Regions from separate parts of the Homo sapiens genome. Here region 2 is linked to region 1. The links come from fine-mapping of genetic effects on gene expression. A gene starts in region 1. The other region holds a variant in brackets. All regions are shown on one strand. Distances are between the middles of the regions. Region 1 holds the start of ZNF394 (zinc finger protein 394). Region 2 has its middle 29 kb from the start of MYH16.

Region 1 (4,392 bases):
CCTGGGCAACAAGAGTAAAACTCCATCTCAAAAAAACCCCCAAAGCCAAAGATAAAAAACGAAAAACAAATGCTATACTTAATAAAAGTCATGTGAATGTGGTCTCTCCCTGTCTTAAAATATCTGATTGTACTGTGGGTAAGTGAAACCGCAGAAAGCAAAACCAGGAAGGGGGGACTACTGCCTGTCTCTAGGCATATTCTCTTCAAAAACTCCAACATAGAAACAAATATACAAAGATATGCAAGAATATACAAGAATGTTCGGTGCAATGCTGTAATGGTTAAAAACTTAAGACACCTAAATGTCCATCAACAGAAATGGAGAGAATTCTGGAGTATCTGGACCGTGAAATAGGTAGAGCTCCATGCATCAACATGAGTAAATCTCAAAAATGTAATGTTGAGTAAAAAAAGCCATACAGTAATGATATACAGCGTGGAGCTACGTGTCTATGTAGAGACAATATAAGACATGCATGGAAGTCATGAACACAACAGTCAGCTTACTGGCTACCTCTGGAGAAGGATAGAGGGGAAGGGTTTCAGGGAGGCTATGTGGGGGCCTCACCTACAGCTGTAACATACTATTTCCTTGGCAATATGGCCAAGTATTAAGATCTGATAAACTTGGGTGGTAGACACAGGGGATGGTCATTATCTTTTTTTTATATAGTTTTCTGTATGTATAAAACATTAAAAATGAACCAAAGTAAAAAGCTGAATCTAGCACCTAGCAGTACAGAGGCTCCTGCTTGCGTTACAGAAGGCACCTGAAGGCTCTCAGCCCAAGTCTGGGAATGGCATAGTGGCTCAGGGATGGTAGTGAACCAGCCCTTCACAAACCACACACCGCAATAAACCAGCAGAGCAACAGCACTCACTCGGCGGAACTGTGCTCCCGGAATCCTTCTGCGCACTCTCTCTGCAGAAGTCCCTCCGTGCTGGGTCCAGGCGCTCCCACTCCTCCCAGGTTAGAGACACAGCCGTGTCCTCGAAAGTCACCATCCCCTGGAACAACACAAGAGCCCCATTCAGTACCTGCTGTCCCTGTACAGCACTAACACTCTTCTTGAGTCTTGTACCGACAAGGGAGTTTGGAGAGATCAGAGATAGAGGCTGACATTCTCTTGTAATCCTGAAAAGCCTTTCTGTGGACTATTTACACTAATTTTGGAGGTAGGTAGGAGCAAAATATTTCTTTAACTTATATCACTGTGATGTATGGGAATGGAAATATGATACAGATTAAAAGTAAACAAGGCCGGGCGCGGTGGCTCACGCCTGTAATCCCAGCATTTTGGGAGGCCGAGGCGGGCGGATCACCTGAGGTCAGGAGTTCGAGACCAGCCTGGCCAACACAGTGAAACCCCGTCTCTACTAAAAATACAAAAATTAGCCGGGCGTGGTGGCGGGCGCCTGTAATCCCAGCTACTCGGGAGACTGAGGCAGGAGAATCGCTTGAACCCGGGAGTCAGAGGTTGCAGCGAGCCGAGATCGCGCCATTGCACTCCAGCCTGGGCAACAAGAGTGAAACTCCATCTCAAACAACAGCAAGAACAACAAGAAAAAAAAAAAAAAGAAAAGAAAAAGAAAGAAAACCAGTAATCCGTGTTCGCTTTATGCTGAGGTCTATAACAAGTCATTTCCTGGATGGATCTGTCACTGTGGCCTACAGAAAGGAAGTCCATACACACCCCAATGTTCACACGAAATGTAATAAGGAAGTAAGTTCCGAAACGCAGAGCACCCCTAAACGCCTATTTTCCACACTCCCACCTCCAGAACAGGCCTTTCGCTTCTCACCTGGGATGAGGTTCCATCGAGCGCTCGCTGCAGAGCCCGCACCACGGCCACCGCCTCCTCCCCGCTCTCTGGGCAGTGCTCTCGCACCCAGGCTTGAAGCTCCTCGGGCAGGATGGTGAGGAACTGCTCCAGCACCAGCAGCTCCAGGATCTGCTCCTTGGAGAGCAGCTCGGGTCTCAGCCACCGACGACAGAGTTCTCGGAGCCGGCTCAGCGCCTCTTCCGGTCCAGCCACCTCCTGGTAACGCAGCTGCCTAAAGTGCAGTCGAGAAGTTTCGGGGTCCGGCGAAGCCGCGGGATAGTTGGGCTCCCAACTTCCGGGTGAGTCTTCCTCCACTTTCACGGGCAAAAGTCCGTCGCGTTGGGACGGCGCCGCGTCCTTGGACCTCGCAGCCATCACCCAGGGTCCCAACTCGGCGTCACTGCCGCGCCTCTGGGCGGTCAAGCTGGAATTCATCTTTCTCCGGCATGTGCTGCCCTTCCTGGAGTCTTCTTTTCAGGTGAAGAAAGAGCAAACCCAAGGAACTCATCAGCCGTCAACACCCTCCGGTCCCAAACACCGGGCCCCACCACACCAGGCCCCTCTCCACACTCTCCTTTCCTCAGCTTTGCGCCTACAACTCTCTCGGTCAAACAACCGAAAACATCCCGTGCCGGAAGCGCGTCATCGAGGCCTTGCGGCACCTTTCCCTGCATTTCCGGGGCCTCTCTAGGCGCCTGATGGGGTGAGGTGCATCTCGCTGGTTTATCGTCCTAGCCCCGCCCGACGCAGAGGGTCTTGACGGTTTCCCGCATCCCGAGGAAATACGGGCGTCCGAGCCGGTGGCCGAGCTCCGGCAAGGGCGGGAACCTTCAGGATTAAATAGACAGGGTCTGGCTCTGTCGCCCAGGCTGGACTGCAGTGGCGCGATTTCGGCTCACTGCAACTTCTGTCTCCCGGGTTCAAGCAATTCTCCAGCTTCAGCCTCCCAAGTATCTAGGACTACAGGTGCGCGCGACCACGCCCGGTTTATTAATTTTTCTGTGGGGATGGGGTTTCATTATATTGCCCAGGTTGGACAAAGTTGTTTTTTTTTCTTTTTTCAGGCGGACTCTCGCTCTGTCGCCAGGCTGTCTTAGCCTCCTGAGTAGCTTGGACTACAGGCGCGCGCCACCATGCCCGGCTACTTTCTGTATTTTAGTAGAGATGGGGTTTCACCATGTTGGTCAGGCTGGTCTGGAACTCCTGACCTCGTGATCCGCCTGCCCCGGCCTCCCAAAGTGCTGGATTACAGGCGTGAGCCGCTGCGCCCAGTTGGAAAAAGTTTTGTTTTTTTTTTAAAACTAAGTGCTTCCATGTACATCAGATGTTAACGACTTTGATCCTAACAAACAAACAAAAAAGATGAGGAAATTGAGGCTCAAAGATGTGTCCTGGCCTGGCTCAGTGGCGTATGCCTGTAATCCCAGCATTTTGGGAGGCTGAGGGGGGAAGATCGCTTGAAGCCAAGAATTGGAGACCCCAATGTCTACAAAAAATAAAAAATTAGCTGGGTGTGGTGGTGCACACCTGTAGTCCCAGTGAGAGGTGAAGCTAGTTGGACTTCCTGGGTCCAGTGGGGACTTGGACAACTTTTCTGTCTTACAAGAGGTTTGTAAAAATGCACCAATCAGCGCTCTGTAGCTAGCAAGAGGTTTGTAAAATGCACCAATCAGCGCTCTGTAAAATGGACCAATCAGCAGGATTCTAAAAGCAGCCAATCGCAGGGAGGATGGAAAAAAGGGCGTTCTGATACGACAGAAACGGACATGGGAGGGGACAAATAAGAGACTAAAAGCTCCCACCCCAGTCAGCGGAGGCAACCGGCTGGAGTGCTCTGCCATGCTGTGGAAGGTTTGTTCTTTCGCTCTTCACAATAAATCTTGCTGCTACTCACTCTTTGGGTCCGTGCCATCTTTAAGAGCTGTAACACAGTGAAGGTCGGAGGCTGCATTCTTGAAGTCAGCGAGAGGATGAACCCACTGGAAGGAACCAACTCAGGATACACCACTTACTTGGGAGGCTGAGGTGGGAGGATCCTTTGAGCCCAGGAGGTAAAGACTGCAGTGAGATATGATCGCACCAGTGCACTCCAGCCTGGGTGACAGAGCAAGACTCTGTCTCTAAAACAAAGTGTCTTGGTTGATGTCAAGCTGCTGGTGATTTGCAACTTGCATAAAATGAGACGATCGCTTGAGACCAGGAGTTCCAGGCCAGCCTGAGCAACATAGAGAGGATGTGTCTCCATATAAAAATAAAAAAATTTTTTTTTGAGAGGGAGTATCGCTCGGGTTCAAGCGATTCTCCTATCTCAGCCTCCCAAGTAGCTGGGATTACAGGCGCGTGCCACCACACCCAGCTAATTTTTTGTATTTTTAGTAGAGACGGGGTTTCACCATGTTAGCCAGGATGGTCTTGATTTCCTGACCTCGGCTCACTGCAACCTCTGCCTCCTGGGTTCAAGCAATCCCCCTCCCCACCCCACGCCCAAACAAACCGAACACTATTTATCAATCCAGGTGTGTTTAATAACTAGACATAAAAATATCTCTTATGGAGCCAGGTGCGG
Region 2 (4,392 bases), 260 kb before region 1:
AAAACCCAGCTTGAGGCCAGGCATGGTGGGTCACGCCTGTAATCCCACCACTTTGGGAGGCCAAGGAGGGTGGATCACCTGAGGTCAGGAGTTTGAGACCAGCCTGGCCAACATGGTGAAACCCCATCTCTACCAAAAATATAAAACTTAGTCGGGCATGGTGGCCTGCGCCTGTAATCCCAGTTACTTGGGAGGCTGAGGCAGGAGAATTGCCTGAACCCAGGAGGCGGAGGTTGCAGTGAGTTGAGATCACGCCACTGCACTCCAGCATGAGTGACAGAGTGAGACTCTGTCTCAGAAAAAACAACAAAACAAAAACAAACAAACAAAAAACAGCTTGGTTTACTAAGGGCGTGGTAACCATTACGGGGAGTGGGGGTGGATTTTCCAGAACTGTCAAGATTTCAAATTATCTGCCTATTGTACTAATAAGTTATTAAAAGTCCCAGAAATCCCAGTATGGATTCAGGCCTCACATCTAAGGTTGCAGGCAGCCAAAAGGTATTTGTTTTCTAGATCGTATGTCTTCAGCTTTGATCCCAGATGCTGGAGCTTCTTAAGAGCTGGCACTAGTTTTTTTTTTTTGTTTAGTTTTGTTTTGTCTTGCACTATCACCCAGGCTGGAGTGCAGCGGCATGATCTCCGCTCACTGCAACCCCCGCCCCCTGGGTTCAAGTGATTCTCCTGCCTCAGCCTCCCAAGTAGCTGGGGTTACAAGTGTGCGCTACCACGCCCAGCTAATTTTTGTATTTTTAGTAGAGACAGGGTTTCGCCATTTTGGCCAGGCTGGTCTCGAACTCCTGACCTCAGGTGATCCACCCACCTCGGCCTCCCAAAGTTCTGGGATTACAGGCATGAGCCACTGCACCCGGCCTAGTTTTCATTTATAGATGAAGAAATTGGGGTGCAGCATGGGGAAGAGATCTGCCCACATGGCACGGGCGCGAACACACCTACTGATGAATGCTCATTGCTGGTTTCTTTTTTTTCTTCTTTTCTTGCTTGCTTTCAATTTTATCCTTGAAGGTGGCTTGGAGGGAGCAGGGGAATGTCTTTTTTTCAAGTGGAACAGTGGCTACATGTGGTGGCTCACACCTGTAACACTTTTGGGGGCCAAGATGGGAGGATCATTGAAGGCCAAGAGTTCAAGACCAGCATAGGCAACATAGCAAGACCTTGTCTCTAGAAAAAAAAATTAAAAATTAGCCAGGCATGGTGGTGTGCACCTGTAGTCCCAGCTACTCGGGAGGCTGAGGCAGGAGGATGGCTTGAGCCCAAGAGATTGAAGCTGCAGTGAGCTATGACTGTACCACTGAACTCCAGCCTGGGCAACAGAGCAAGATTATGTCTCAAAAAATAAAATTAAATTAAAAATTTAAAAAGGAAAAGTTTGGCTGGTCTGAAGGTAGTGAGTTATCTCAATTGATTGTGCATGGTCAGTTACAGATCAAAATCCTTGTTCCACTCTTCCCCCCACCCTTCTCATTACTGCACTTAGTCTTTAAAAAAGAGAGAGAGAAATGGAAAAGCTCATCGCTATTTCGAAATCACCGCTAACTCTCAAGGCAGAGAGCCAAGAGTCACATCTCTGCAAAGTGTCCATGGGATCAAAGAATAAGCTCTGATCATCTATCAGGATGGATTTGGCTGGAAGAGAAGCAGAGCCCAGAGGTCTCTGTAACATAGGGAGGGAACGTCATAGTTTTTAAGGTATTTTTACATGATTCCACTTAAGTTCATATAATTCTCCCAGCAACCTGCCAAGGAGGCTACTGTCATCTCAACTTCAGAGAGGAGGCAGTTGAAGCTGCATTGGCCTCAGAAGTGCCTCCCCATCCCAGGACACACAGGGGGATGTGGCTGGACCAGGACTTGGGTCCACTGGATGCTCCACTCCATCTCCTGGGACTCCAGAGGGTATGTGGTGACCTGGGCCAGATGCCCCATGCCCCATGCCTGATGCCTGTGCTGCTGTGTCTTGACCCCCCCAGACACTCACTGTGAAGAAGGATG[A/C]TATCCAGCAGATGAACCCACCCAAATTCTACCAGGCCAGTGACATGGCAGACATGACCTTCCTGAATGAGGCCAGTGTCCTAGACAATCTGCGCCAACGCTACACCAACATGAGGATCTATGTGAGTGCCAGGGATGGGGTGAGTGGGGGGAGGAAGGAGTGGCTGTAGATCTTCTGCTTTTCTTTTGTTGAGGAGGGGGTTGGCTACTCCACCCTCCCCAGCTCCCAGTACACATTATGACTTAGACAAAGGCACAGGGACCACGTTTCTGACATGTTAGAATTTCCACCCAAAGCCTTCGGCATCTCAGTAATGGCACCATCTCCGTGAGCAGCTTTTGCTGAGGCTGTCACCCGAAAATCTTCCTCCTCATGTTCCTCCCCTCTTCCTCAAACTCTCAAATCAAAACATCATTTTTCCCCTAGTGACTTCATGTGCCATTATTAGAAGTCCATCCATCCATCTATCCATTCATCCATCTATCCATTCATTCATCCATCCATCCATCCATCCATTCATCCATCTATCCATTCGTTCATCCATCCATCCATCCAAACATCCATCCATCCAAACATTCATCCATCCAAACATTTATCCATCCAAACATCCATCCATCCATCCAAGTATCTATCCATCCATCCAAACATCTATCCATCAACCCAAACATCCAAACATTCATCCATCCATCCATCCATCCATCCAAACATCTATCCGTCAATCTATTCATCCACCTATCCAAACATCGATCCATACATATATACGTCCAAACATCTATCCATCAGTCCAAACATCCAAACATTCGTCCACCTATCCAAACATCCATCCATCCATCAACCAAACATCCATCCATCCATCCACTCATCCACCCATCCAAACATCCAAATATCCATCCATTCATTCATTAATCAAAACACTCATCCACCCATCCATCCAACAAACATTGAGGAAATGTGACTTGTAGCCTGAGGCACTTAGGAAGGACAACCAACTGCATCCTTGAAGAAATTCAGTTTCACTTTGTCTGACATGATGACCAGAGTGAGTTACAATCAGTCCCCTGAGTGTCTTTGAAATCTTAAGACAGAAAGATGATTTCCTGAAGGTGTTGCAGCTTAACTCCCAAAATGGGTTGTCTAAGGACGTGTTGGTGTTTGCCTCTCTAGATGTCTTTATTTAAAAGGAAAGAGGCTTATCTGGTAGGAATAGGTGAGGTGCAGCCTGACTCCCAGGTCAGGAGCTGCTGGGGGTTCCCCTTCCCTGGGTCTATGGTTATAGTCAAGAGGGCTTCTGTGACCCCAGATTCATCCTCCTTTAATACTACTACTGTGGTTCTAGATTCAGGCCCCAGTAGTACCATAGCCCCAGGTGTTGCTGGAAGGTCTCTGAAATCTCTTGAAGATATTTGCTAGGTCTGGAAGTTAGCAGGGCATCCTTGAACCCCAGGTCTAGAAAGAGCCACACCCACCCCCGGCTGAACCTAGAGCCTGGGCTGAGAATGTCAAGGTACAGGCTCAAAGGTCAAGCTCAGGACCAGGGCTTACCTGGGGCTGCTCTGCCCGCAAGCCCTTGTTCCTCCTGGGTGACCACATCATGACTTTGGGCCAAGGGACTGCAGGCTTTGTGGAGTATAGCCTGAGAGACCAGGGCAGGGAGTCCCCTCCTACATTAAAGCGCCTCAATAGAGCCACTAATGCAACAACTCTAGCTGGCAAGGGCTGCTCCCATGATCCCAGCTGCTTCTCTCTCAATTCCTCCTGACCACAGCAGGGAGGTAACTGGCTTCCAGGATGCTGTCTGCCCCCACCCCACGGCTGAGACAGGCTGGAGGGGAAGAGTGACTCCATGGCTGGTGTCCCAGGATGAGACACTGTGTGTCATACTCTCAGCTGTTCCACTGGGTTTCCTTCATCGTCTCTTTGCCTTTTTTCCTGTGGATCAGTTTGTACTTAATAAGTTTCCTTTTGAAAATTCAACATATCCCAGTTATGCTAAGGAGGAGCTGGTGGCAGGGACAGGGGTGGATAGGGAGCAGTTATTCTTACTTGGTTCAAAATGGAAGGGTTTAAAGTTGAACTGAAACCAAGTACTTGGTGGATGCTTTAGAGGTCAATGTGACTGTCCAGCAAGGAGAAGAGAAATTTAAGATTCATAGATTTGGCCATTTCCTGTCTTCACTCATTCTTCCTGCTCTTAATTTATTTAATGATGTAATTGGTTTTTCTGGGGTTTTTTGTTTGTTTGTTTGAGATGGAGTCTCGCTCTGTTGCCCAGGCTGGAGTGCAGTGGCACAGTCTCACCTCATTGCAACCTCCGCTTCCCGGGTTCAAGGGATTCTCCTGCCTCAGCCTCCTCAGAAGCTGGGATTACAAACTTGCGC

Evidence for each region. PIP is the estimated chance that this variant, and not a neighbour inherited with it, causes the effect. A credible set is the group of variants that fine-mapping cannot tell apart.
Region 2: its variant is the best candidate, but not a certain one, in a credible set for the expression of ZNF394 in whole blood (TOPMed, PIP 0.86).

The regions. Positions count from the first base shown.
Region 1 is chr7:99,497,833-99,502,224 of GRCh38, forward strand. It overlaps ZNF394 (zinc finger protein 394), which reads right to left and starts at 2,449. Exons shown (of 3, transcript NM_032164.4): 1 at 1,806-2,449; 2 at 884-1,010. The coding sequence starts at 2,261. RefSeq lists enhancers at 889-1,557, 1,780-2,059.
Region 2 is chr7:99,241,287-99,245,678 of GRCh38, forward strand. It overlaps a transcript of MYH16 not described here. Among named protein-coding and RNA genes, the nearest start is that of MYH16, 29 kb to the right of the region's middle. The variant A/C (reference allele first, on the strand shown) is at 2,014.